Linked DNA regions of Homo sapiens. The protein of the gene in region 1 purifies or fractionates together with the protein of each later gene. This does not show direct contact. Each region holds a gene or a part of one and is shown in the gene's direction. Other genes may lie near its edges. The genes, in order: DGKE, IFT46, PDHA1 and PAICS.

The links.
Region 2: the proteins of DGKE (region 1) and IFT46 purify together in Homo sapiens (affinity purification with mass spectrometry; one large-scale study listed by BioGRID and IntAct). This does not show direct contact.
Region 3: the proteins of DGKE (region 1) and PDHA1 purify together in Homo sapiens (affinity purification with mass spectrometry; one large-scale study listed by BioGRID and IntAct). This does not show direct contact.
Region 4: the proteins of DGKE (region 1) and PAICS purify together in Homo sapiens (affinity purification with mass spectrometry; one large-scale study listed by BioGRID and IntAct). This does not show direct contact.

What each region holds. Positions count from the first base shown.
Region 1 is NC_000017.11:56,862,804-56,870,094, forward strand, and holds the end of DGKE (diacylglycerol kinase epsilon), read left to right. Parts: 3' UTR 1-6,764; downstream 6,765-7,291. UniProt on the Homo sapiens protein: Membrane-bound diacylglycerol kinase that converts diacylglycerol/DAG into phosphatidic acid/phosphatidate/PA and regulates the respective levels of these two bioactive lipids.
Region 2 is NC_000011.10:118,557,659-118,562,931, reverse strand, and holds part of IFT46 (intraflagellar transport protein 46 homolog), read left to right. Parts: intron 1-1,293; exon of another isoform or gene 1,294-2,315; intron 2,316-3,067; 5' UTR 3,068-3,102; coding exon 3,103-3,147; intron 3,148-5,041; coding exon of another isoform or gene 5,042-5,194; intron 5,195-5,273. UniProt on the Homo sapiens protein: Forms part of a complex involved in intraflagellar transport (IFT), the bi-directional movement of particles required for the assembly, maintenance and functioning of primary cilia. May play a role in chondrocyte maturation and skeletogenesis.
Region 3 is NC_000023.11:19,346,824-19,350,941, forward strand, and holds part of PDHA1 (pyruvate dehydrogenase E1 component subunit alpha, somatic form, mitochondrial isoform 1 precursor), read left to right. Parts: intron 1-2,488; coding exon 2,489-2,548; intron 2,549-3,113; coding exon 3,114-3,287; intron 3,288-4,118. UniProt on the Homo sapiens protein: The pyruvate dehydrogenase complex catalyzes the overall conversion of pyruvate to acetyl-CoA and CO(2), and thereby links the glycolytic pathway to the tricarboxylic cycle.
Region 4 is NC_000004.12:56,447,000-56,455,332, forward strand, and holds part of PAICS (bifunctional phosphoribosylaminoimidazole carboxylase/phosphoribosylaminoimidazole succinocarboxamide synthetase), read left to right. Parts: intron 1-1,418; coding exon 1,419-1,598; intron 1,599-1,710; coding exon 1,711-1,824; intron 1,825-3,619; coding exon 3,620-3,703; intron 3,704-4,872; coding exon 4,873-5,053; intron 5,054-6,603; coding exon 6,604-6,762; intron 6,763-8,333. UniProt on the Homo sapiens protein: Bifunctional phosphoribosylaminoimidazole carboxylase and phosphoribosylaminoimidazole succinocarboxamide synthetase catalyzing two reactions of the de novo purine biosynthetic pathway.

The sequences.
Region 1 (7,291 bases):
GTGAAAACTTTGCATAGAATCCTCACGCAAGTAGATACATGTTCATCCAAAAGTATTAATAGAAATTCTCTATCAGCTATTCAGTCTTAATTTCACTAGTAGTATAATGGGTATACATTTTTGTAAATAGCATCCCCAAACCAGCCAGCCTTCAGTTATTTACAAATGTTTGTTCTTTTTTCAGCAAAATACTTCAAATGAATAGTATTAACTTACAAAAAGTCACAAAAACTTACATGAGAGTGAAAATTTGTTATGACTGTTTTGAGAGTGGGACTCACTCTGAAGTATGTGCTGTCTCATGTCTTATTTTTGAACCATGCATATGATGGACACACAATGGATGGACACATTATATCTCCAACAAGGTGTGGGTGGAAAGATCAAATTAACCTGCTTTTTTGAAAGGAAATGATTACTGTCAAACCAGCATGGTTAATTGTGAGCATCCTCCTGCAGCATGCCCCTTAAGATTTTCTACAACCCAAACCAAGTGTATGTATTGATTTCTAGGAACCCCCAAAAGGAGAATAGTAAAAAAAGATCATACTTAAAATTTGTATTACAATTTTTATTTTAGGAACTTATTCAGACACGTAAATGTTGTTTAATTCTGTAGGTAACCATTTGAGCTGCAATTCAGGATCTTTTTTATAACACCAGTGTAGCCAAAAGAGAAACAGATAAGTGAATTGGTAAGAAATAAGATTCAGAGCACTTGGGATTGTAAGTTATAGGTTCTGAGCTGAACTGTTTATCAGCCGCTCTTTTTATTAAAAGACAGTGTCAACACTTCAAAAAACGTGCTTAAAGGAGACAACGGTGAGATTAATTGCTTAGAAAAAGCTCAAGGCTGACTGATAAGTTTTAAAAATTTGGTGGTCTTGTAGTATTTTGAAATACAGTAGTCTTTTAACAGAATTTCCCCTTAGGGAGGTAAGTGGACAGAAATCTTTGCTAAAATGTTTATATCATATTTATTTTAAAATGAGAGAGATATATTTTTAAATTATTTATTATTTACCTTGTGGTATGGTACCTGTGTTTAGTGTTTACGTTCTGTAGCTTTATTTAATAAGTTAAATTGATCACATAAATTCTGCTAGTCACAATCAGATAGAAATTTAGTCTATTAATTAAAATTCTAATTTAATTCTCCTGACAGAAATCTAGATATTCTTATTCTTCACAAATATTCCTCATTGTATTGAAAAATGAAGGAGGGCATGAAAAGCACTAGGGAACTACTTTTGGATAACTGAAAGCTTTGTTTCATTGTTTTATTTGCCCCTCAATTGCCACAAACTTACTGAAGGGCTAGTTTCATGGTTCCCATTAGAGGGTGCTTGTTCGCTGCTGTTGACCAGCCCAAGGGTCGTGACCCACAGGTCGGCTGACCCAGAGGGCATCCAGCCTGGTGTTTTTCTGACACATGGCCCAGGCTTTGTGGTCTTTCATGACATTAATCTCTGAAAGATCAGAATGTATCCCCCAAAATACCATTAGCTATCTTTGAGGGTCTATTATGAATCTGTCATCCATGAATTGCCATAAACCTAAGTTTGCCTCACCTCAGGCCCAGACCATGTTTTCAAAGAGCAACTTAGTAATGTATACAGTAGTCAGTACATTTTATGAAATACTCTATTTTGCTAAATTAACCTCTTGCAGATCTCCTCAGGTGATCTTAAATTCTAGTCTTGAGAAACTTTGTGAGCAGATCTGTTTTCAGCTTCTTTATATACCTTTCATGGTAAGTAACCATGGCAGTGAGGATGGCAGAGTTTTGTTTTTTTTTTTTTTAATGGGCCAATCATGTTCTGAGTATTATGAAGTTTATCCTTTCATTCATGATCAAAATTGTTAAAGACATCACATTTTATAAATACACTGTTAAATCCACTTTGCTGTAGGTTATAGTTTACCTGTTATATAATTCGTAGTGCTAATTGTAGTAGAAGCAAATCAATTTAGGATGTTGGAACGAAAATAATCACAATAACTAATACAGCTTTTTAATTGTGAAAACTACAATTAAAAATTATAATTTTAATACCAACCATAATATTACACTGTATTTAGAACAGGCTTATGTAAAATGCCCTCATTTATCTAAATAAGTTGATTTTTTGGTTATTGTAATCTAGTAAGGTTTTTGCATCACTACTGGTCTGTCATGAAGTTTTTCTGCTGGCTTATTCACTTATTTAGACTTCATTTAGGGAAGCTATTTCAGAATACCATCTCATAAAATGTATCATTATCTTGTTTTTGCAAAATTCACTTACTTTTTGGGCACATTTACCCAGCATTTCAAATAAGTGTATAGGCATGTGCCTTGTTTAAGTACAATTTATAAGACTTCATGTTTGCAAGTTACATATTAGGGTAGTGATTGTTTATATTACCAGGGATTCTACACTTTACCAAAAAAAATTGCCATAAGATTTTCCTGTTCCATTTTAAATTGTCTTGATATTTAAAAAAATAACTTCTACATTCTCAGGAAGAAATACATGAAGTAAATCATATCTCCATGTCTGTTTCCAGATTTCTCTAATCTTTTTACTATCCCAATACATTCCTAATTCCTATAAACGTAGTGGCTTAAATACTGAATACCTGGCAGCTCTTAAAGATCCCTTAGGCAGATGATGATAATTTTCAGTGTTTCGTCATGTTTAATAGAAATCAAACTGACTTGTGTTTTAAAATACAAGTTGTCTGCTAGTAAAGTTACATGATTTAGGTGTGTTTTAGGTTTTCTGCAACAATTAGCTGTGAACCCCTAATGTAGCTAAGTTTATACAAATTTTATAATCAAAATTATTTATTTTTATTTTTTTAGAGTATGTCAAAAACATATAGTGTTTGCTTTGTGAAATACATTTGCTTAGAGTTATAAAATATACTGTGACTCAGAAATTGTAAAGTCAGTTTGCGTTGTAAAAATGAATACTACCAGCATGTCAAAAGAAAAATAATTTACATTTGTAATATAAAGTAAAATTGTATTTAATATATTTATTGAATTTTAAATTTGCACTAACTTGAAAACTTTAAAGGTTATACTAATTTAATGATTAATGTGGACCCAAATACATAATTTGGCCAAAAAAGTCATTAGAATGGGTAATGGTTTTGTGTGGTTTTCCTTCAAAATGATAATATTGAAGCAAGAACCAGCATTTTATATTGATAATTTTTTTAATATTTCTACCCAGTTGAGGACAGTGGAATATAAGTAGATATATTTAAAATATCTAGATATTTAAAAAGAAAGAAAAGGTTGTTTATCCCAATCTGAATTCATTCTCAGCAACAAGACAGAAAAGGTGGTTTGGGTTTTGCTTTTAAACAGTGTCCCCCTGTCTTTTTCAATTTTTCCCTTGAAGCCTTTCTCTTGTTCTTCAGAGTACGCGCTGCAGGCTATCTGCAGCATCAGAATGCCTGGGCAGGCTGTTGAAAGTATGGATTCCTGAGCCCAACCCTTAACTTAATGATTCCCTGTCTCTGGAGATGCAACATAGAAATCTCTGTTTTTATTAACAAGCGCCTCAGGCGATTCTTAAGCATACTGAAATTTGAAAGCTTCTGGTCTGAACCTCATGTATTCACCTAGGGCTTTTGCTAGGTGGGATACCATGCCGAAAAATTGAATTAATTGTATGTTCTTAAAATTGTTTTTCTTCTACTCCGCTGTCCTCTTCCCTCAAAATCACTTTTCTAAAAGAACTCTATGAAAAACTTATTTGTATCATACCCAAATTGATATATTTGTCTGAACTCTGTTACATAAAAATTGGTATGATTCATATGTGGAATCAGTTTTTGGACTGTGACCCATGCAGTGTTGGGGGACAAGGAGTTGCTTCAGGAGTTAGTGCAGTGCGCCTCCAAGGGGCAGTGAGCCATGGAGGCGCCTGCCTTCTCACTGCAGTCAATGCAGCCACACTTGTGTATACTGAGTGCTGCTTCAGATCTCAGTAGATAAAATAATTCCACATTTAAAATGATTCTGCTATTTTTTATAAAGGGTTTGAAAGCCACTACTATAATGACTTTGTCACCTAATTGATTTTCTACTAATTTTTACATATTCAGAAACTTCGTGTTTTTTTGGTGGACAGAATATTTTGGAGGTCTCCGTCGCTGTTTAGAATGTGGCCACTTGGCTGTTTCACAGTTTTTAAAGCTATTTTATTGAATAGTAAAGCAGTGAACTTAGCCTTTGTTCTTTGTGTTTCTAATTTAAGCATATAGTCTATTTAATTTTTGATATGTAAATACACATCAATACATATATATTTACCCATGTGGCCCTGTGTAGTCAGTGCATGAGGCTTGCATAGCCCAGAAAGGTACATTCCAGGGTTCTGGGGAAAGAATTTTAAAATGCCATCCTCTAATACAGACGTTTATAAAACTTAAATGAAATGATTGGGCTTAACCATATGCAAGAAAGTCTGCAGAAAATAAATCACCTAGAAACTATAAATAGAAATGTGCTGCTGAGGCTGGGCACGGTGGCTCACACCTGTAATCCCAGCACTTGGGGGGCTAAGGGAGGCGTATCACCTGAGGTCAGGAGTTTGAGACAAGCCTGGTCAACATGGTGAAACGCCGTCTCTACTAAAAATACAAAAAAAATTAGCCAGGTACATTGGCACATGCCTTTAATCCCAGCTAATCAGGAGGCTGAGGCACGAGAATTGCTCGAACCCAGGCGGCAGAGCTTGCAGTGAGCGGAGATCACATGACTGCACTCCAGCCTGGGCAACAGAGCAAGACTCCATCTCAAAAAAAAAAAGGCCGGGCGTGGTGGCTCACGCCTGTAATCCCAGCACTTTGGGAGGCTGAGGCAGGTGGATCACGAGGTCAGGAGATCGAGACTATCCTGGCTAACACGGTGACACCCCGCCTCTACTAAAAATCCAAAAATTTAGCCGGGCATGGTGGCGGGCACCTGTAGTCCCAGCTACTCGGGAGGCTGAGGCAGGAGAATGGCGTGAACCCGGGAGGCAGAGCTTGCAGGGAGGCGGAGCTTGCAGCGAGCCGAGATAGTGCCACTGCAGTGGGGCCTGGGCCAAAGAGTGAGACTCCATCTCAAAAAAAAAAAAAAAGAAAGAAATGTGTTGCTGGTATCAGATATCAGACCAAGAACACTTCAGTCTCTCTAAGGATGCCCTGAGCTACCTCACTGTTAAAGGACGACATCAACACAGAATGCACTAAACAGGAAATAAGCTGTAATCTAGAGAATTTCCATTATGTGTTACTTTTTGGTGACTAACATGGAATGTTGAAAAGGAAGAGCTGGAAAGCTCAGTTGTTTTCCTTGTTCCTCTGACATTGTCCAGGCAAGAGGGCATCCTGATCAGATGAGTAGATTTGGCTGAGAAAAACCCTAGAGTAAGGCAGGCACTTTGTGGAGGTGGATGATGATGGCTCATAAAAACGTTTGTTCTCAGTCCAGTTCAGGGCTCTGCCAGCAGTCTTTCAGATCTGAACTGCTTAAACAAACCCTACAGATAAATTGGCACTCTGATTTGTAATTCTGTTTGTACAAGTTTAGAGCAGCCTAGCTCGAGTCCTCAACCCCAGTCCTCTTAGAAGTGAACTGATTGCACTGGATCCCTAAACCCACAATGTTGAGGACACATGTGATGACTCCACTTGCTCAGCCAGCTGGCCTCTTGCACTTTCCCCTGCCCACCACTTGTAACTACCACTTAATTATCTTGTGTTAATTGCTTTTGTTGTGTTGGGTCTGTATTTTTGTGGTCAGTGCCTGCAGGCAGAAATGTGAAAGCATTTGGTATGTTGAAGATACTTGCTTCTTTTTTAATAAAATTAAAAGTGCAGCACGTAAGTATGATACTGTGTAGTTTTTTGACACAACCATGAGATACAATAAGCAGCTTTGACTTAGTGTCCCAAAAAGTGGTTCTTGGTCTACAGCAGGGCAAACATATATGTGGCAAGTTCTGATCACATACTTTTAGACAGAAAGAATAAAAAATTCATATTGCATGGCTTTTGTAGCCTAAGAGCACAGAATCATACACGTGTGTTAGGAGAAACATTCATTCTCACGCATATAAACTGGCTCCTGGCAGAGTAGAGCAGTAAGTGGGATCAAAGGTGAATTCACCTTATTTTCAGTTGGTAGAGTATGGAAAAATGTATCACTTATTTGAAATACCTGAATGGAAACCCAGCCTCTACTACTGTAACTTAACACTTGTTCTTCCTGAGCCTCAAATTTTCTTTCTCTGTAAGAATGGGAATTAATGCCCACCTACGGGTTGCAAGTGCTTACAGGAGCTGGGCAAGCAACGAAGGTAAGAGTTGTAGAGACTTCGGTAAACTGGAGCACATGATTCCTGGGAAGCAGGCCTAGTGTAAACAATTTATTTTTCTAGAAAAGACAGAAGTTTAGAGTATATGAAATCTAATTTTTAAGTATTGGTTGGCAACTAATTGACTATCGTCTACCATAAGGTTATATGATAATTATTAGGGCAGGAGAGTGAATGCATCTTAATATGCATGGCAGAACTGTGTGTTTCCTTCCATCTGGATTTTCATAAAGCTTTCTGATTTATCAGTAACGATCTGAAAAATGTACTGTGGCATGTAACATCTTTTATTCATTTTATTAGGCATTAGAGGAAGAATATTCTGTAGTCCTGCTTTATTCTGCCATCTTTACCTGGAAATCCATTTTTATAAAATTTTTGTAATAAAAATTCACTTGATCACTTGCCTGCTTTCTTTTAAACAGTGCCAAGCGTAATGCCCCTTGATAATTTACATATATGTGAACGTGGCTGTGATAGCTGCTGATGTTCACACATAGGCCATCTTACATGTAATGATCCATGTTTGGACTTAAACAGCTTCACACATTTATTGTACAGTTAGGTGTCACATGCTTTTACTTTTTATTTTATAATCTGTATTTCTGTGAGGTAGACATTATTGGCTCCATGTTATATACATTGATAGCCCGGAGCTAGAGATTGAACCCAGGCCATCCTCCCCACTGCCTTTCATCATCAACACAACCACCACCAACAGTATTTTAAAAGTGTTAAATATTGGCAGACGTGTCATTGTTCTGAGCACTAGGACTAGGGCTTATGCGGCTGTCTGAGGAATTCCCTGTACAAGGAAACATCATATACCAAAAAGTTACTCATGGAAGGAGTTTGGAGATGATGAGCTAAAAGTATTACACATGGACTATTGTAAAAGAAAAAAAAGCAGGCACAATAAAATTTTAGAA
Region 2 (5,273 bases), on another chromosome or scaffold:
CACCACACCCAGCTAATTTTTTGTATTCTTAGTAGAGACGGGGTTTCACCATGTTGGCCCGGATGGCCTCGATCTCCTGACCTTGTGATCCACCCACCTCGGCCTCCCAAAGTGTTGGGATTACAGGCGTGAGCCACCGCACCAAGCCTATGCCACGTTTTTTAATTCATTCATTTGTTAATGGACACTCGGGTTGTTTTCATATTTTGGCTATTGTGAATAACACTGCTATGAACAGAGGTGTACAAGTGTCCATTTGAGTCCCTGTTTTCAATTCTTTGGGACCTAGCCACCTAGGTTTTTGACTTGAGCGTGTTTATGCTCTTGACAGCTGTGGATATTATAATTTGTTTTTAATTTGGGCTAATTTAGTAAATAAAAAAAGGGTTTAATTTGCATTTATTTGATATAGAAATCATTTATCATGTTTTCATTCCAGTTAATGCCTTACATCTAATTATACTTTTATTTTAATTTAATTTTTTATTTATAGAGACAGAGTTTTGCTCTGTCACCCAGGCTGGAGTGCGGTAGCATGATCACGGTTCACTGCAGCCTCGACCTCCTGGGCTCATGCAGTCCTCCTGCTTCAGAACCCCCGGTAGCTGGGACTACCAGCCCATGCCCCCATGTCCAGCTAATTTTTTTTTTTTTTGAGATGGAGTCTTGCTCTGTCGCCCAGGCTGGAGTGCAATGGCGTGATCTCGGCCCACTGCAACCTCAACCTCCCAGGTTCAAGCGATTCTCCTGCCTCAGCCTCCTGAGTAGCTGGGATTATAGGAGTGTGCCACCACACCTGGCTAATTTTTTTGTATTTTTAGTAGAGACGGGGTTTCACCATGTTGGCCAGGCTGGTCTCGAACTCCTGACCTCAGGTGATCCACCCGCCTCAGCCTCCCAAAGTGCTGGGATTACAGGCAGGAGCCACTGTGCCCGGCCTAATTTTTGTATTTTTTGTAGAGACAGGGTTTCACCGTGTTGCCCAGGCTGGTCTTGAACTCCTAGGCTCAAGCAATCTGCCTGCCTCCGCCTCTTAGAGTGCTGGGATTACAGGTGTGAGCCACTGCGCCTGTCATTAATTATCCTTTTAATTGTTCAGAATATTTAAAAATTGCTCTTATCTTTGCATACTGATTCGGATTCAAACTTGTGACTATTATTTGCCAGGCCCTGGGTCAGTTCCTTGCACATAAATTTTTTCACTTGATCCTTATAAGAGGCCTGGGTTAGAAATATTAGTGACCCCATTTAGAGGTGGGAATACTGAGACTCAAAGAGGTTAAATCTTTTTTTTTTCTGTCCATATGTTTATCGTCTTTATCTGAAAAATCTTTATAGAAAATTGTTTGGTTTAGCTCTCAGCAGCCTGCTCCTGAGCTCTGAGGGAGCTTGCCTTCTTTTAAGCTACCTGATGTTTCTTCTGAGCAAGGGACATTTTGGGACAGTTCCACCTATTCTTTTTAACTTCTTTCTTGGGCCTCTTTTCATAGACTGGATTCTCTCATATAGCAGCATGAGCTTTCTTATACATCTCTTCCATCATGTCTGGAGTTACGCTCTTCTTTATGCATTGAGAGAACTGGTTCTTGTAAGCATCTTCATCTTCTTCTGTTAAGTAGTGCATGTAATCTGCAACATTCTGGCCCATGATGTGCTTCTGGTGTACTTCTGCATTAAATTCCTTGCTTTCAGAATCATAACTAGGGAATCGTTTGGTACTGTGAGGGACAGACAAGCCTCCATCCACAGCTCCCTTCAGGGTGCCAAAAACTTTATTGCCAGTGGTAGTTCTGGCAAGACCTGTATCCAAATAGCAGGTAAAGGCACCTGGCTGACCATCAATGCTTTCCACATTGTATTCATTGCCAGTCTCCTCCACTTGGCCTTCATAGATCTTGTCCATGCCAAACCTATTGGGAAGCCTGCGGGCCAGCAGCAGGCCAGTACAATAAGTTGCAGCATAATTTGTCAGGCCAACCTTCACACCACATTTTGGCAGTTTGTGTGCATATGCTGCGCAGACTATATCCCCCTCTATACGGGCATAAGCAGTCTGACAAATGATATCTCTGTTTGTTACACGAACTATCATCTTATATTTGGGTGTGTTGTATTTATTTTTATCCTGTATCACCAAGCATTTCTGAGGATAGTAACCAGTTTTACCCTCTCGTCGTCTTCTAAATTTCACTTGGTATCTCTTAAAGTAGGCTTTATTCTTAACAACTTTAATAAACCCCATTCTGCGGAACAGAGACCCGCGTTTGCGGCTCGACAGAGACCTGCCGGCCCAGCAGTGCTAGGGGGTGAAAAGGCAAAATCATTTTAAGTAATTTTTCTTCAAACCCACTCTTAGTATGAATTCAGCACTCTGTACTTTACTAGTTATTAACCTAATTTGACTAATGTGTAAACTAAGGGCAGAGTGTATATTTTTCTCTTTCTTTTCTTTTCCCCCTCCCCTCCCCTCCCCTCCCCTCCCCTCCCTTCCCCTCCCATTCCGTTTCTGACAGGCTCTCACTCTGTTGCCCGGGCTGGAGTGCAGCAGCATGAACACTGGACACTGCTCACTGCAGCCTCGAACTCCTGGGTTTAAGCAGACCTCCTGCGTCAGCCTCCCGAGTAGCTGGGACCACAGGCGCATGGCATCACACCCAGCTAATTTTTTTTCTTTTTTTTTTTTTGTAGATGGGATCTTGCCATATTGTCCAGTCTAGGCTCAAACTCCTGGGCTCAAGTGATCCTCCTGCCTCCCCTTCCCAAAGTGTTGGGATTATAGGCATGAGCCACTGCCCCTGGCCAGAGTTTATATTATTTATGTAATGGCAGATAATTTGAATAGTATAATGTCTAACCCAATGCCTTAAGCACAGTAATGTTTAGTAAATATATCTTGAATTGAACTGGCAGAGCCATGACTAGAATTCAGTCTCCTGTCTCTTTAGCCAGATGTTCCAATAAACCTTGTTTTATAAAATGGTTAGAGCATAAAATATTAAAAACTAAAAAATACTTGTTTTTAAAAATCATTTTAACAATAATCTAAAGGAAAAACTTTTTTTCTAAGGACTTCCTCGTTCTGCCCATCTTCCTAACAAGGCTATGGCTGATAACAGCAGTGATGAGTGTGAAGAGGAAAATAACAAGGTACAGTAAAACTCACAGCTTCTTGTAGAATTTCTGCTTTGGGTTTTTAGTAGTTAGAGATGACACCAGTTCAACGGTAAACATTTCTTGAACACTCACCTCCAGGGGTTAGGGACCTTTGAGCTCATGGAGGAAAATCAGTTACAAAGAGCCTTGAGATTTTGACCCTTCTTCAGGAATAAAGCCTACTACTACAATTGACTTTGGTGAGGAATTTCACATAATGTAGGCCAGTGTTTCACAAACTTTCCTGATCATAATACTCAACTGAGGTACTTATTTTTAAATATACGGATTCCCAGTCCCAGCCCAGAATCTCAAAAGTAAAAGCCTGGGAATTTATATTTTTTAGGAAGCAGTCCAGGTAATTTTATGCTAAAGCGAGTTTGAAATTATCAGTCTAGGCATTTTTTCATTGTCAATACTTGTGATACTGCCAGTATTTTGTGAAGGAGATTTTAATTTTGAGGTCTTAAGACCCAGATGTTGGCTGCTGTTATTCTGTGTACCTAGAGAATCACCCTGCTTCTGAAAGAAACATGGCAAGAGGCCCACCTCTCTAGAAACATATAGGACCTTAGAGTTGCACATATGATTTCTTAAAAACCGTTTATGTTGGCCGGGTGTGGTGGCGCACTCCTGTAATCCCAGCACTTTGGGAGGCCGAGGCGGGCGGATCACCTGAGGTCAGGAGTTTGAGACCAGACTGTCCAACATGGCGAAACCCCATCTCTAATAAAAATACAAAAAATTAGCTGGGCGTGGTGGCGGGTGCCTGTAATCCCAGCTACTTGGGAGGCCTCCCAAGGTGCTGGGATTACAGGCACAAGCCACTGTGCCCAGCCTGTTTTTTTTGTTTGTTTTTTTTTTTTGAGACAGAGTCTTGCTCTTTCACCCAGGCTGGAGTGCAGTGATCTTGACTCACTGCAACCTCTGCCTCTTGGGTTCAAGCAATTCTCATGCCTCAGCCTCCCGAGTAGCTGGGGGATCACAGGCCTGCACCAACTCGCCTGGCTAATTTTTGTATTTTTAGTAGAGATGGGGTTTTGCCATGTTGGCCACACTGGTCTTGAACTCCTGACCTCAGGTGATCCTCCTGCCTTGGCCTTCCAAAGTGCTGGGATTACAGGTGTGAGCCACTGTACCCAGCCTGATGGCTGCATTTTAATGGTTTTTGTTTTTGTTTTGAGACAGAGTCATCTCGCTCTGTTGCCTAAGCTGGAGTGTAGTGGCATGACCTCAGCTCGCTGCAACCTCCGCCTCCAGGGTTCAAGCAATTCTCCTGCCTCAGCCTCCTGAGTAGCTGGGATTACAGGCGTGCGCCACCACGCCTGGCTAATTTTTGTATTTTTGGTAGAGATGGGGTTTCACCATGTTGGTCAGGCTGGTCTCGAACTCCTGACCACATGATCCGCCTGCTTCGGTCTCCCAAAGTGCTGGGATTACAGGCATGAGCCACCACCCCGGGCTGACAATATTCTTAAAAGTTCCCTCTGCCAAAACTGCTTCCTATGTGACTAAGGATAATTTTGGCAAATCTTGAATTGAGAAAGAATGCTCTAGAAAGTTCTTATCAGTCATATACTAATAAGGCATAGTCACTGAATAAATTCTGCAACTGTGTTTCATTATCTGCCATGCATATTACAGCTTAGTTAGAATATACTTTATGTATAATAAATTTGTTATTCTTAGAGCAAAATGTGACTAAAAGCAGTTTTTGGTGTCCTGTAACGTGTCACAATTTTGTGTGCCAATAGCTGCTTTACCATAAAAACAAATTAATTTTAAACAACTGGAATCAAACGTGTTAACCTCAGTATAAGCCATACGGTATATAGAAACCAAGTTTTGAAAACCTACTTTTAAAGGGGGCCAATTGGTCATCCTTCAGGTCCTAAGGGAGGGCATGCCACAGGCTCCAGGCCACAGAGGCAAAGACATGGACCCTGTTCCACCTGCCCCTGCAAGTCTCAAGTGCCACCAGACCCCTTCTCATGTACTTGAGAGGGTGGGATGGTACAGAGAGAGCCAGAAGCACAGAAAGGTAGGTTATAATGTCAAGAACAAAAGAGCTGTTTATCTTGAGAGAGAATGTGTAGTCATTTTATGTAATTTATGGGGTA
Region 3 (4,118 bases), on another chromosome or scaffold:
TGAGATCTTTACTAGCAATGTTTTGGCTTTATAAGTGGTAGGTAAGAGTTTTAATTTACACTGTTAGAATCTGGAATTTTTGAAACGTTTTTCCTCTTTCACATGAATGGTTCCTATGTATTTAGGAAGTTAAAGTTTTACTTTTTTTTAATTAATTTTTTTTTTTAGGCTGGAATGCAGTGGCACAGTCATAGCTCACTGTAGCCTCAGGTGTGTGCCACCATACCTGACTAATTTTTTAATATTTATTTTTGTAGAGATGAGAGTCTCATGTTGCCCAGGCTGGCTTTGAACTCCTGGCTTCAAGTGGTCCTCCCACCCTGGCCTCCCAAAGTGCTGGGGATTATAGGTGTGAGCCATCATGCCCGGCCTAGTTTTTATTTTTTAAAATTTGAGTGGGTTGTTCGTGGTCTCTGTCAGAGAGGAATCCCATTTAACAGAGAATCTTTTTATGGCTCTCCAGAGAAAATGAATGGTAAACTTATCTTTTCAACAAGCTCTCACTCAGAAATGATACACACACACTTCTGATAGGACTTTTAGCTTCTTTAACTTTGTTCCTTTCACTCATATCAGTGGTTCTTATTTTTGAGATACACAGTAATGAAGCCATGGGAGAAAGTATCTAAGTAGCTTTCTGGCAGTCCTAATCTTTGCAGGCGCAAGATTACAGGCGCATGCCACAGCACTGGGCCCCTTCTTGCTCTTTATTGTATAGCATTATCCTGCCTCATTGTTTCAACTCTAGGATTGAGAAAGAAGTTACCTTTTCTCTGTTACTGTCGCCTGGCTGGTTTGGACTCCTGCCTTCCAAAAACTGCAGTTTCTGTAGTTGTATTTGGAAATTTATTTCACAATACAATAAATTTCTGGCCCCACAAAATATTTATTAACTGCCAAGAATAACACATCTGTTTGATTGCTAAATATAACCATTGATTTGCTGTTTCACCTTCTCTCAGCTTTACTTCTTCCCAAATTCCTAAATTTCCTTCACTTTTTCTGAGATACATTAGTGGACTGTCTCTGCCTGTAAGTTAACTGAAACACTGATTCCTAGTATTTCAGTTGTTTTCCTCCAGCACTGTCATTGTCTGTGTTTGTTGGCTTTGTCCAATAATGGTCTATTGAGGGGTGAAGATATACGTAATTAGCTTTCTGCCTATTGGCTTGTACACTCCAGGGTATACTTGGCAGATCAGTCTTAACTCTTCTCACCAAGATCAGTCCAGTGCTGGATTAGGTAAGGTATGAACACATCAGATGTGCTTTTTATGGAGAAATCATGTTGGTTTACACGTCAGTGTGTGAGAATGTGGCAGAAGGGAGCTAAAATAGTATGATAATACTACTGGATAAATTTTGTGGTCTAACCTAAACCTTAGCCATTACATAGAATACTTTTGCTGTGAGCAGGTTTGCTCAGTTGTAAAACTGGAAAGGAATCATTTCTCACCCCCCGCCTCCAAGCTTTTTACCTCCAAACAGTGACAGCCACCCAAACATCAAGAGAACAGTGTTTCAGAGAACATTTCTACTGGGGCTTCAGGAGGAGCCTGTCCAAGATTTAGGCTGTTCAAATTATAAATTATAAAACAGCTGGCTCAAGCCCATTGTGTTTAAGTCAGAGAGTGCTAAGTATCTTTTCTTTTGTCTTGTCTCCCTAAAGTATTTATCTCATACTTCAATCAATTTAAAATATTTTTTCTTACAGATCCAATTTGATAGAAGAGTCAAGTTTGCCTAGAGTGGAGATTAAATCATAGTTTTATTTGAAGTATAATTTTGGCTTGCTCAAAATGAACAGTATCTGGTTATGACTAAGAATGGCATGAAAAGGCCAGACGCAGTGGCTCATGCCTGCAATCCCAGTACTTTGGGAGGCCAAGGCAGGTGGATCACCTGAGGTCAGGAGTTGGAGACCAGCCTGGCCAACATGGTGAAACCCCATCTCTACTAAAAATATAAAAATTAGCCGGGCGTGGTGGTGGGCACCTGTAATCCCAGCTACTCGGGAGACTGAGACAGGAGAAATCACTTGAACCCGGGAAGCGGAGGTTGCAGTGAGCCGAGATCGCACCACTGCACTCCAGCCTGGGTGATAAAAGCAAAACTCCGTCTCAAAACAAACAAACAAAAGAATGGCATAAACAGACACAGCTCACAGATGATCTAGTCTCTTTAGCCACTAATTTCATTATATTCTCACTATAATTTCTTTGAAAACAAAGGATGGGTTTGTTTTTTGCCCCTCTTTGCGCTGCTTGCCTTCAGATGCGGGATAATCCTGTTTCATTGGCCAAAGCATGGATTCATTTTGGAGGCCAAGGAAGATGCAAACACAGTGCACAGGGTGGAAGAGAAGCCTATGAATATGTTGGGGCTTATTAAATTTCCATAACTTCATTCTGATAACTGATTATTATACTTTCCAAAATAGCTGACAATTAAAAAGTACTGATTTGTTTGTATATTTTTGTCTTTTAAGGCAAGCAGAGTGCTGGTAGCATCCCGTAATTTTGCAAATGATGCTACATTTGAAATTAAGGTAAGAGGTGTTTTACTTTGTTAATAATTTTTTCACAGGTACACTCTGATATACAGTTTTACCTTTAGAATAGAACATTTTGATGTTCATGCTTAGTCATCATTTTCTTCTAAATGTTCCAGGATCAGAAGTTCAGAGAAGCTTCACGAAAACTAGAATTTATTATTAGCAGCTTGCTGTTGTTCTGTGGGGGGAAGGGGGAGGAGCTAGAAAATGAAAATAAAAATAAAAGCTTATTCAAAAGTTTGGAATGTAATTCAGTGAAATATTTGAATAAGAAGAGTCTTAGTTGTTTCTTTGAAGGTTCTTTCAACCTATAACTCAGTTGGCTTCTAGGGGCTTTCAGTGAAAATCATCTTAGAAAGATTTCCTTCCCCCAAGCCCCATCTCATTGCACAGTGAGGTTTATGGATTTAAGGAACAGAGGCGATATGAAGCATTACTGATGTGCTCCTTTGCAGTTTTTCAAGTTCAATATTATTTGCAATGGAGTTAGATCTTAGAGTGGTCAACAGTGTTTGCAATGTAGTATGTGGAGGATAATAACTACCTTATTCCATTTCAGAAATGTGACCTTCACCGGCTGGAAGAAGGCCCTCCTGTCACAACAGTGCTCACCAGGGAGGATGGGCTCAAATACTACAGGATGATGCAGACTGTACGCCGAATGGAGTTGAAAGCAGATCAGCTGTATAAACAGAAAATTATTCGTGGTTTCTGTCACTTGTGTGATGGTCAGGTGAGTGGTAGGTTTGTGGTGGAACTGTGTTATTTAGGTACTGAAGTATGGCTTGTACTTATTGGGCTTTACCCTGCCATATGTATCAGAAGAGTTTGAGGCTGGTAATGTAATTTTCTTTTATTTATTTATTTTTTTGAGACAGTCTCTCTCTGTCGCCCAGGTTAGAGTACAGTGGTGATCTTGGCTCACTGCAGCCTCTGGTTAGAGTACAGTGTGATCTTGGCTCACTGCAGCCTCTGTCCACTGGGCTCAAGCAATCCTCCCACCTCAGCCTCCCGAGTATGTGGGACCACAGGTGCACACCAACACACCCAGCTAATTTTTGTATTTTTTGGAGATACGGGGTTTCACTATGTTGCCCAGGCTAGTCTCAAACTTCTGGGCTCAAGTGGTCCGCCCACCTTGGCCTCCCAAGGTGCTAGGATTACAGGCGTGAGCCACTGTGCCTGGCTGAAGCCAGTATTTTAGAATTAAAAAGTAGAATGCCAAAACCTGCTATGAAGCTTAGGCTAAAGAATTCATTCACACATAACATTGCCAGTTTTCTGTACCTGTTCTTAGAGTTTTACTATTTTAAAACTTTCTGGCACTATGATCGCCTGTACTGTATATAATTTGGAGAGAAAGGATTAGTTTGTTTTTTGTTTTGTGGGCTTAGGTCAAGGGTTAGAGTCAAATACCTACAAGGGCCAGCCAGGTAGAATAAATGAGTGAAGAAGGCTAGGTATACAAAACAGAAAATGGTGACAGGGACTCATGCTGAACTGGCACCAGCATGCCCTACCCAGAGGAATGCCATGACTTGGTTCCAGCCAGTTGGTGCCATGT
Region 4 (8,333 bases), on another chromosome or scaffold:
AAATTTGTCTTATCTAGTTGCCAATGTCAATAATGTACACTTCCATTAACAATGATAAATCAAATTTTAAAAAGAAAGCATCTGAAAATCTTACCTTTGAACCAAGATGACTAACAGGAAGAAGAGAAAAGTAACATTTAGTTAATTTTTTTAAAATTTAGTTGAAATCTTTTTATATTCTAATACAGGAAAACTATACTAACAATGTCTCTTGTAAGTGAAAATATATAAATAAAGGTTGTAAGAATCAGTGGTTATGAATTTTGTAGGCTTTACTGCTTTTAACCATCTTGATTTATGCTGTTAAGCATAGATCTGCTTGGGAAGCAATATCAGTCTTGCTTTTTAATCAATGAGTTATGTAACTTGTGTGTATTATGATTATATAGATCAAGAATTTATAAAGATATTGTCATGTAAAGTTGGGACACTGCTGAGAATAAAATGAAATTATTTCATTTTTTTCACTTACCTCTTTGTCTGAGGTCTCTTGAATTATCAAATAATGTCCCTAAAAAATTATAGTGCTGTATAAATTCTAATAAAAAGTGAGGTTGGGAGGTTATGAGAACGGTGGTTTTGGAAAGATTTGATTGATTAAAATGTGCTTTGGCCTTCCTGTCATGTCTGATGACTGTTATTAAGGAAAAACAAAAATCACAAACTTAAATTCTGTTTAAATTGGTTTATAGAGGTTAAATTCTTTGAAATACTTTGTGACCTAGAATAAGTTACTCACCTAAATACTTTGAATTTTAAAGTGCTATTGAGAGTAAACAAATTAAGAGTAATAGTTTTTTCTGCTTGCAGGAGCTAACTAGGAAAAAAAAGAGGAGTAATAATTGCTTTGAATTAAGGAGTATCGTAAACAAAAAATTTCTTTAGATGTCTCATTTTGTTGCCCAGGCTGCTCTTGAACTCCTAGGCTCAAGCGATCCTCCTGCTTCAGCCTCCTAAATTACTGGGACTACAGTGTGAGCCACTGCACCTGGATCAAAATTTCTTTTCTTTTTTTTTTTTTTTTTTGAGATGGAGTCTCCCTCTGTTGCTTAGGCTAGAGTGCAGTGGCGCTCTCTCAGCTCACTGCAACCTCCACCTCCCGGGTTTAAATGATTCTCCTGCCTCAGCCTCCCAAGTAGCTGGGATTACAGGTGCACACCACCACACCCAGCTAATTTTTTGTAATTTTAGTAGACAGGGTTTCACTGTGTTGGCCAGGCTGGTCTCGAACTCCTGATCTTGTGATCCGCCCACCTCAGCCCCCTAAAGTGCTGGGATTACAGGCATGAGCCACCATGCCCGGCTGTGGCTAAAAATTTCTAAGGAGTTCATGCTCAAGGTGAAAAGGATGTTGGTTTTTCTGAAAAGTTTAAAAATTTTAGATTGAAGTTAATTGTACTACTATACTTTATTCACAGGATGATGCCAATAATGACCCACAGTGGTCTGAGGAACAGCTGATTGCTGCAAAATTTTGCTTTGCTGGACTTCTTATAGGCCAGACTGAAGTGGATATCATGAGTCATGCTACACAGGCTATATTTGAAATACTGGAGAAATCCTGGTTGCCCCAGAATTGTACACTGGTTGATATGAAGGTACAGATAAAACAAGTACAGATAAAACAACAGGATTTGAAAGTAAAGGTTATAGTTGAGAGATGCTTTCATAAAATAGTTTTTGAAAACTTTGTTGACATGCTGTTTCCAGATTGAATTTGGTGTTGATGTAACCACCAAAGAAATTGTTCTTGCTGATGTTATTGACAATGATTCCTGGAGACTCTGGCCATCAGGAGATCGAAGCCAACAGAAAGACAAACAGGTAGATAATGCTTCAGGTTTTTTTATCCTTTTTGAGATCAAGCTGAGATAGAGGAGAAAGGAGAGATGAGGGGAAAAAGCAAATTATTGTTCCTAATGATATGAACCTGTTTTGTGGATTGCTGTTTATTTTTAAAGATAAATGTCTCTGGTATCCTAATAGAAGAATAATAGGAATAATACTTTACATTTATAAAGCAAATTTCTCATCTGTTATCTTAATAACATTGTCACAACAGTAACAGCAAGTATTATCTTTGTTTGGCTAAATGAAAACTAAGGGTCTTAAGAGGATGGGTATCTTCACAATTACTAGAGTCAGGGACAGATCTGGGACTCTATTCCAAGTCTCCTGCATGTTACCAGGCCACATTTCTGCTCCTATATAAAACAACAGACACTTCTCAAAAGAAGACATTTATGCAGCCAACAAACATGAAAAAAAGCTCATCATCACTGATCATTAGAGAAATGCAAACCTAAACCACAATGAGATACCATCTCACACCAGTCAGAATGGCTGTTTTAAAAAAGTCAGGAAACAACAGATGCTGGAGAGGCTATGAAGAAATAGGAACGCTTTTACACTGTTGGTGGGAATGCAAATTAGTTCAGCCATTGTGGAAGACAGTGTGGTGATTCCTCAAGGATCTAGAACCAGAAATACCATTTGACCCAGCAATCCCATTACTGGGTATATACCCAAAGGAATATAAATCATTCTACTGTAAAGACACGTGCACAGGAGCAGCACTATTTACAATAGCAAAGACATGGAACCAACCCAAATGCCCATCAGTGTTAGACTGGATAAAGAAAATGTGATATACACACACCATGGAATACTATGCAGCCATAAAAAAGAATGAGATTGGCCAGGCGCGGTGGCTCACACCTATAATCCCAGCACTTTGGGAGGCCAAGGCAGGTGGATGACAAGGTCAGGAGTTCAAGACCAGGCCAAGATAGTGAAACCTTGTCTCAAAAAAAAAAAAAAAAAAAAATTAGCCAGGCATGGTGGTGGGCACCTGTAATCCCAGCTTCTCGGAAGGCTGAGGCAGAGAATTGTTTGAACCCGGGAGGTGGAGGTTGCAGTGAGCCGAGATTGTGCCACTGCACTCCAACCTGGTTGACAGAGCGAGACTCTGTCTCCAAAAAAAAAAAAAGAAAGAAAAAGAATGAGATCATGTCCTTTGCAGGGAAATGGATTCAGCTAGAAGCCATCATCCTCAGCAAACTAACACAGGAACGGAAAACCAAACACCACATGTTCTCACTCATAAGTGGGAGTTGAACACTGAAAACACATGGACACAGGGAGGGGAACAACACACACCGGGGCCTGTTGCAGGGTGGGGAGCAAGGGGAGGGAGAGCATTAGGAGAAATACCTAATGCATATGGGGCTTAAAACCTAGATGACAGGTTGATGGGTGCAGCAAACTACCATGGCACATGTATACCTATGTAACAAACCTGCACATTCTGCACATGTATTTAAAATAAAAAATAACAGAAAACAAAATTAGAGCAAGACCCTTTCTATACTTAATATATAAAAATTCTCAAGGCAGTTAATTGTAGTTGCTAGTACAGAAAACACTTAACCTTAAGTGAAAATAAAAGTATACTTTACTATGGAACTTTGTTAGTTTAATTCAGGAAGTGAAAAGATGCATTTTCAGAAGTATCCCTTGCTATACAAACTCTTCATAATCCCTCCCCAAAACTCAGAAACCAAATAGTTTCAGGTAGCAAGAGATACTTGTTTTCTAAACTTTCTATCTTATTTTCTAGTCTTATCGGGACCTCAAAGAAGTAACTCCTGAAGGGCTCCAAATGGTAAAGAAAAACTTTGAGTGGGTTGCAGAGAGAGTAGAGGTAAACCTTCTATAGTAAAACTGTATGTATTATGTGTTTTTCTTCTAAGAAAATCTTGTTTCAAAAGAAAAAAAAATGGGAGAGTATAGTGCTTTTCTTTTCAGTGACTTTGTTTTTTGTTGTTGTTTTTTTTGAGACGGAGTCTTGCTCTGTCGCCCAGGCTGGAGTGCAGTGGCGCCATCTCAGCTCACTGCAAGCTCCGCCTCCCGGGTTCACGCCATTCTCCTAGCTCAGCCTCCCGAGTAGCTGGGACTACAGGCGCTGGCCACCACGCCCAGCTAATTTTTTGTATTTTTAGTAGAGACGGGGTTTCACCGTGTTAGCCAGGATGGTCTTGATCTCCTGACCTCGTGATCCCCCTGCCTCGGCCTCCCAAAGTGCCGGGATTACAGGCGTGAGCCACCACGCCCAGCTCTTCAGTGACTTTGAAAGTGAGGAACACTTTTAGGAAATGTATCAGCTGGGCTATCCTTACTAGGATACTGGAACTCCGTGCTGTTAAGCTGGCCAATACATACCTCCCAGATCCTGTTGGGGAAACCTGGAATCTGTCTCCTCCCTACCCCGTAGGAGAAACCTTATATTTCCTACTCACCTGCACTGCTAGTCAGAGTTCCATTAGCATGGGATGGATGGAACTCTGTGTGACTTTAAATATTCCTTTAAGTTTTATGGTATTACTATAATTCTGGGAGTTGAATGGGGTTTGTGATTATGCAAGGGTCATAATCACATTTGAGAACATTATTCTTATAGGAATATATATTTTGAGTTACAAGCAATTAACTTACAAAGACTTAGAACATGACTTCTGATTTGGCTAATCATACCTTAAAGCTTCCATTAAACAAAGTGCACTAAAGGTCTTAGGATGAAATATTTTGTATTATAATTTCCTGAAAATTAAAAGATTTTGAGTATCTTTACTGTTTATTTTAAATAATTTGTCTGATAAAAATTGAATTCTTTAGGTCTTGATGAAGACCACTTTCCTTTATATATTGAGATTTTTAAAAATAAATCCTGTCTTTTTGTTGTTTGTCTCTGTCTTAAATTTGATCTGTTAAGAAAGAAAATATTGGGCCCAGATATAATTTTACTACAAACTCTAGCTCATTTATTCATTTTTGTTTTTATGTTCTTTTCATATCCACGTATTTTTTCTTCAGTTGCTTTTGAAATCAGAAAGTCAGTGCAGGGTTGTAGTGTTGATGGGCTCTACTTCTGATCTTGGTCACTGTGAAAAAATCAAGAAGGCCTGTGGAAATTTTGGCATTCCATGTGAACTTCGAGTAACATCTGCGCATAAAGGACCAGATGAAACTCTGAGGATTAAAGCTGAGTATGAAGGTAAACCACAAGTAATATGGACATTTCAGGTATTTCTGATTTTGCTAAAAGTAATTACACACTTTAGACTAATAATGCTGAAAAAAGAGCTTTGTCAGTTTTCTAAGGGAAAAACACATGATATACTAGGCTTTCTTTTTTTTTGAGATGGAGTCTCACTCTGTCGCCCAGGCTGGAGTACAGTGGCGCCATCTCAGCTCACTGCAAGCTCCACCTCCCGGGTTCACACCATTCTCCTGCCTCAGCCTCCCAAGTAGCTGGGACTACAGGCGCCCACCACCATGCCCGGCTAATTTTTTGTATTTTTAATAGAGACGGGGTTTCACTGTGTTAGCCAGGATGGTCTTGACCTGATCTCATGATCCGCCTGCCTTGGCCTCCCAAAGTGCTGGGATTACAGGCATGAGCCACCACGCCTGGCCGCTAGGCTTTCTTAATACTCACCTCCAAAGAGCTTAAGGTATTCTAGAAGCTTAGAAAAGAAAGGAGCAGGGAGAAATAATTAAAAATGCAAGTATGAAAAGAAAACAAAGACTAGAATGATGAGAACCTCTGGCATCCTTACCTGGTAAGAAGCCCCTGGAGCATTGCTTCTAATATACTCCAATAGAAAATAGGCCCCCACAGTTACAGGAGGCGGGAGGTTAAAATAGCCGGTTCTCCCGGGAATCTTTAGTTGCCACCCTTTCCTGGGAGGCAGTCAGATAGGAAATTAAAGAACAGTTTCAGAATATAGTACATAAAAAATAATGGTATAGCAGTGATCTAAAATAATGGAGCCCTGGGTTTACAACCAAATGTTTCTCAACTGGAAAAAAATGTTGATTATTTCGTGTACAGGTTGTTGCTATGGAAGTGTAGTTACTAATTTTGGGGGAGTGGGAGGTTGGGGGAACTCAGACTCCTTTGATAGCTAATGAATTCTAGAACTCTTTTCAGAAAATTGCAAATACATACAATTTTGGATTCTAGGTTAACAAATCTCTGCTTTAGGAAACAGGAGGATAATTTATAAATTTATCAAAGAATGAATTGCTTAAGAGATTATGTTAAAAAATGTATCAAAGGGCCTTAAAATTTGGGGGACACTATATTAATTAAACTTTCCTTCAACTCTTGTTTGAAGACGTGTCCCTAAACCCCTAGTTTATATTAACTGGTTCTCCCTGCACCAGTTGAGGGACCACCCAGTCAAGAAAGACACCTGTTCAGATGGTGTCATTCTTCACTTTGGCCAGCCTATACAGCAATAGAAGAGGCCTATGAGCTATTCCCTCACTGACACCCTGCTATCCCCTTTATAATGTAGATCTCAAAAACAACCAAACCGATTCCAGCTACTTTATTACTTGACTTATAGTAAGTGGCAGAGTAACCTTATGTTTTGAATATATGTGTAATAATAGTATCTTTTATGTTTTTTCAGAGAAGACTATTCAAGGACCTCAAGTAATTAAAACATATAGGCCTTAAACCAAAAAAAAAAAAAAACCCTGTCTTTAAATCTGTTTTGAATGTTTAGCATAATTATACTCTTGTCATTTCCCTAGGGGATGGCATTCCTACTGTATTTGTGGCAGTGGCAGGCAGAAGTAATGGTTTGGGACCAGTGATGTCTGGGAACACTGCATATCCAGTTATCAGCTGTCCTCCCCTCACACCAGACTGGGGAGTTCAGGATGTGTGGTCTTCTCTTCGACTACCCAGTGGTAAGATACATTGAATTTTTAAAAACTGTTCATTACAAGCATTTAACAGATGCACAACAGTAGACAGAATAGCATAATAAAATCTCATGTACCCATGACCTAGCTTCAGCAATTAACATCTTGTTGTGTCTACAGCCATCTCCTGCTGGATTATTTTAAAGCAGATCTTAGACGTTATAGTAATTTATACTTAAGTATATGTTTAAGTAATACAGGCTCTAGTTTTTAAATCATAATCATGATATTGTTATAGAACAAAAGGAGCCCACTATCTGATGCATTAGAAACCAGTACTATCTAAGCCACCAGGTTTTTGAGAAAGAAAGGCTTCCTCTTTCAAGTTGACCAACAAGGAGACATGAGTCCAGCTCAAATCTGTGCTGGCTTTAAGGCAGCAATTTTATTAGAAAAGGTTTAGGGGATAGATTCTGGGATTAGTAGGTGATTGGTGGAAGGAAAGGGGAGGTCTAGAAAGTCCTTGGGCATGTGCAGTTATCTCTTCATGTTATTTCATGGATCACGTGTGTAAATTTGGGGGAGTTAGAATGAATTGTGGTGGAAATTGGGCCTGTGACATCAGTAAGCTGGTTCTGTGCAGACTCTAGTTGGCCATATTGTTTAATCTACCATTCTGCAAACTCAGGAATTTCTGTTAGTTGTTGGTATCTTTTAACTCTTGGGGACACAGTTTCAATACCATATTCACACCTAAGAAAGACTAGTGGTAGTTTCTTAAGGTATAATTTTTAGTTGGGGTCCAAGTTTTCTAATTGTCTCATCTGTTTGTTCAGATCCACCACAGTCCTTATATTGCATTTAGTTGATAATCTCTTGATTTTTTAAATATATAACAATTCATCCTCCCTTTTTCCCTTTCATTTTTTCAATAGAATTTTCTATATTTTGGATTTGGCTTCTTACATTTCTAGGTGGTGGTAAACATGCTCTTCCATTCCCTATATTTTCTATAAACTGATGGTGAGATCTGTAATAAAATCAAGTTTAGATATTTTTTTCCCAAGAATTCATGGTATTGATTTTTTTTTTTAAAGTAAATGTGATCATGTTACTTCTGTAGAGAGAATACAATTTTATTCTTAAATATTGGGGATAAGGCTGGGTGCAGTGGCTCATGCCTGTCATCCCAGCACTTTGGGAGGCTGAAGTGGGCAGATCTCTGGAGGTCAGGAGTTCAAGACCTGCCTGGCCAATATGGTGAAACCCCATCTCTACTAAAAATACAAAAATTACCTAGGCATGGTGGTGAGCATCTGTAATCCCAGCTACTCAGAGGCTGAGGTAGGAGAATCGCTTGAACCTGGGAGGCAGAGGTGAGTCAAGATTGTACCAATGGATTCCAAACTGGGCAACAGAGTGAGACTCGGTCTCAAAATAAAAAATTGGGGATAAAAGATAATAACATAAGGAAGTCCCCTTTTGGCTGATGGAACTGGATCACGTAACAGTGTTGTGGTTCGTTCATCATAGTCCAAGATATGATCTGATATTCTGCAGTTTATGAGGGTCAATATTGTTTCAGTAGGAGATTTGCTTTATTACTAAAATCCCTA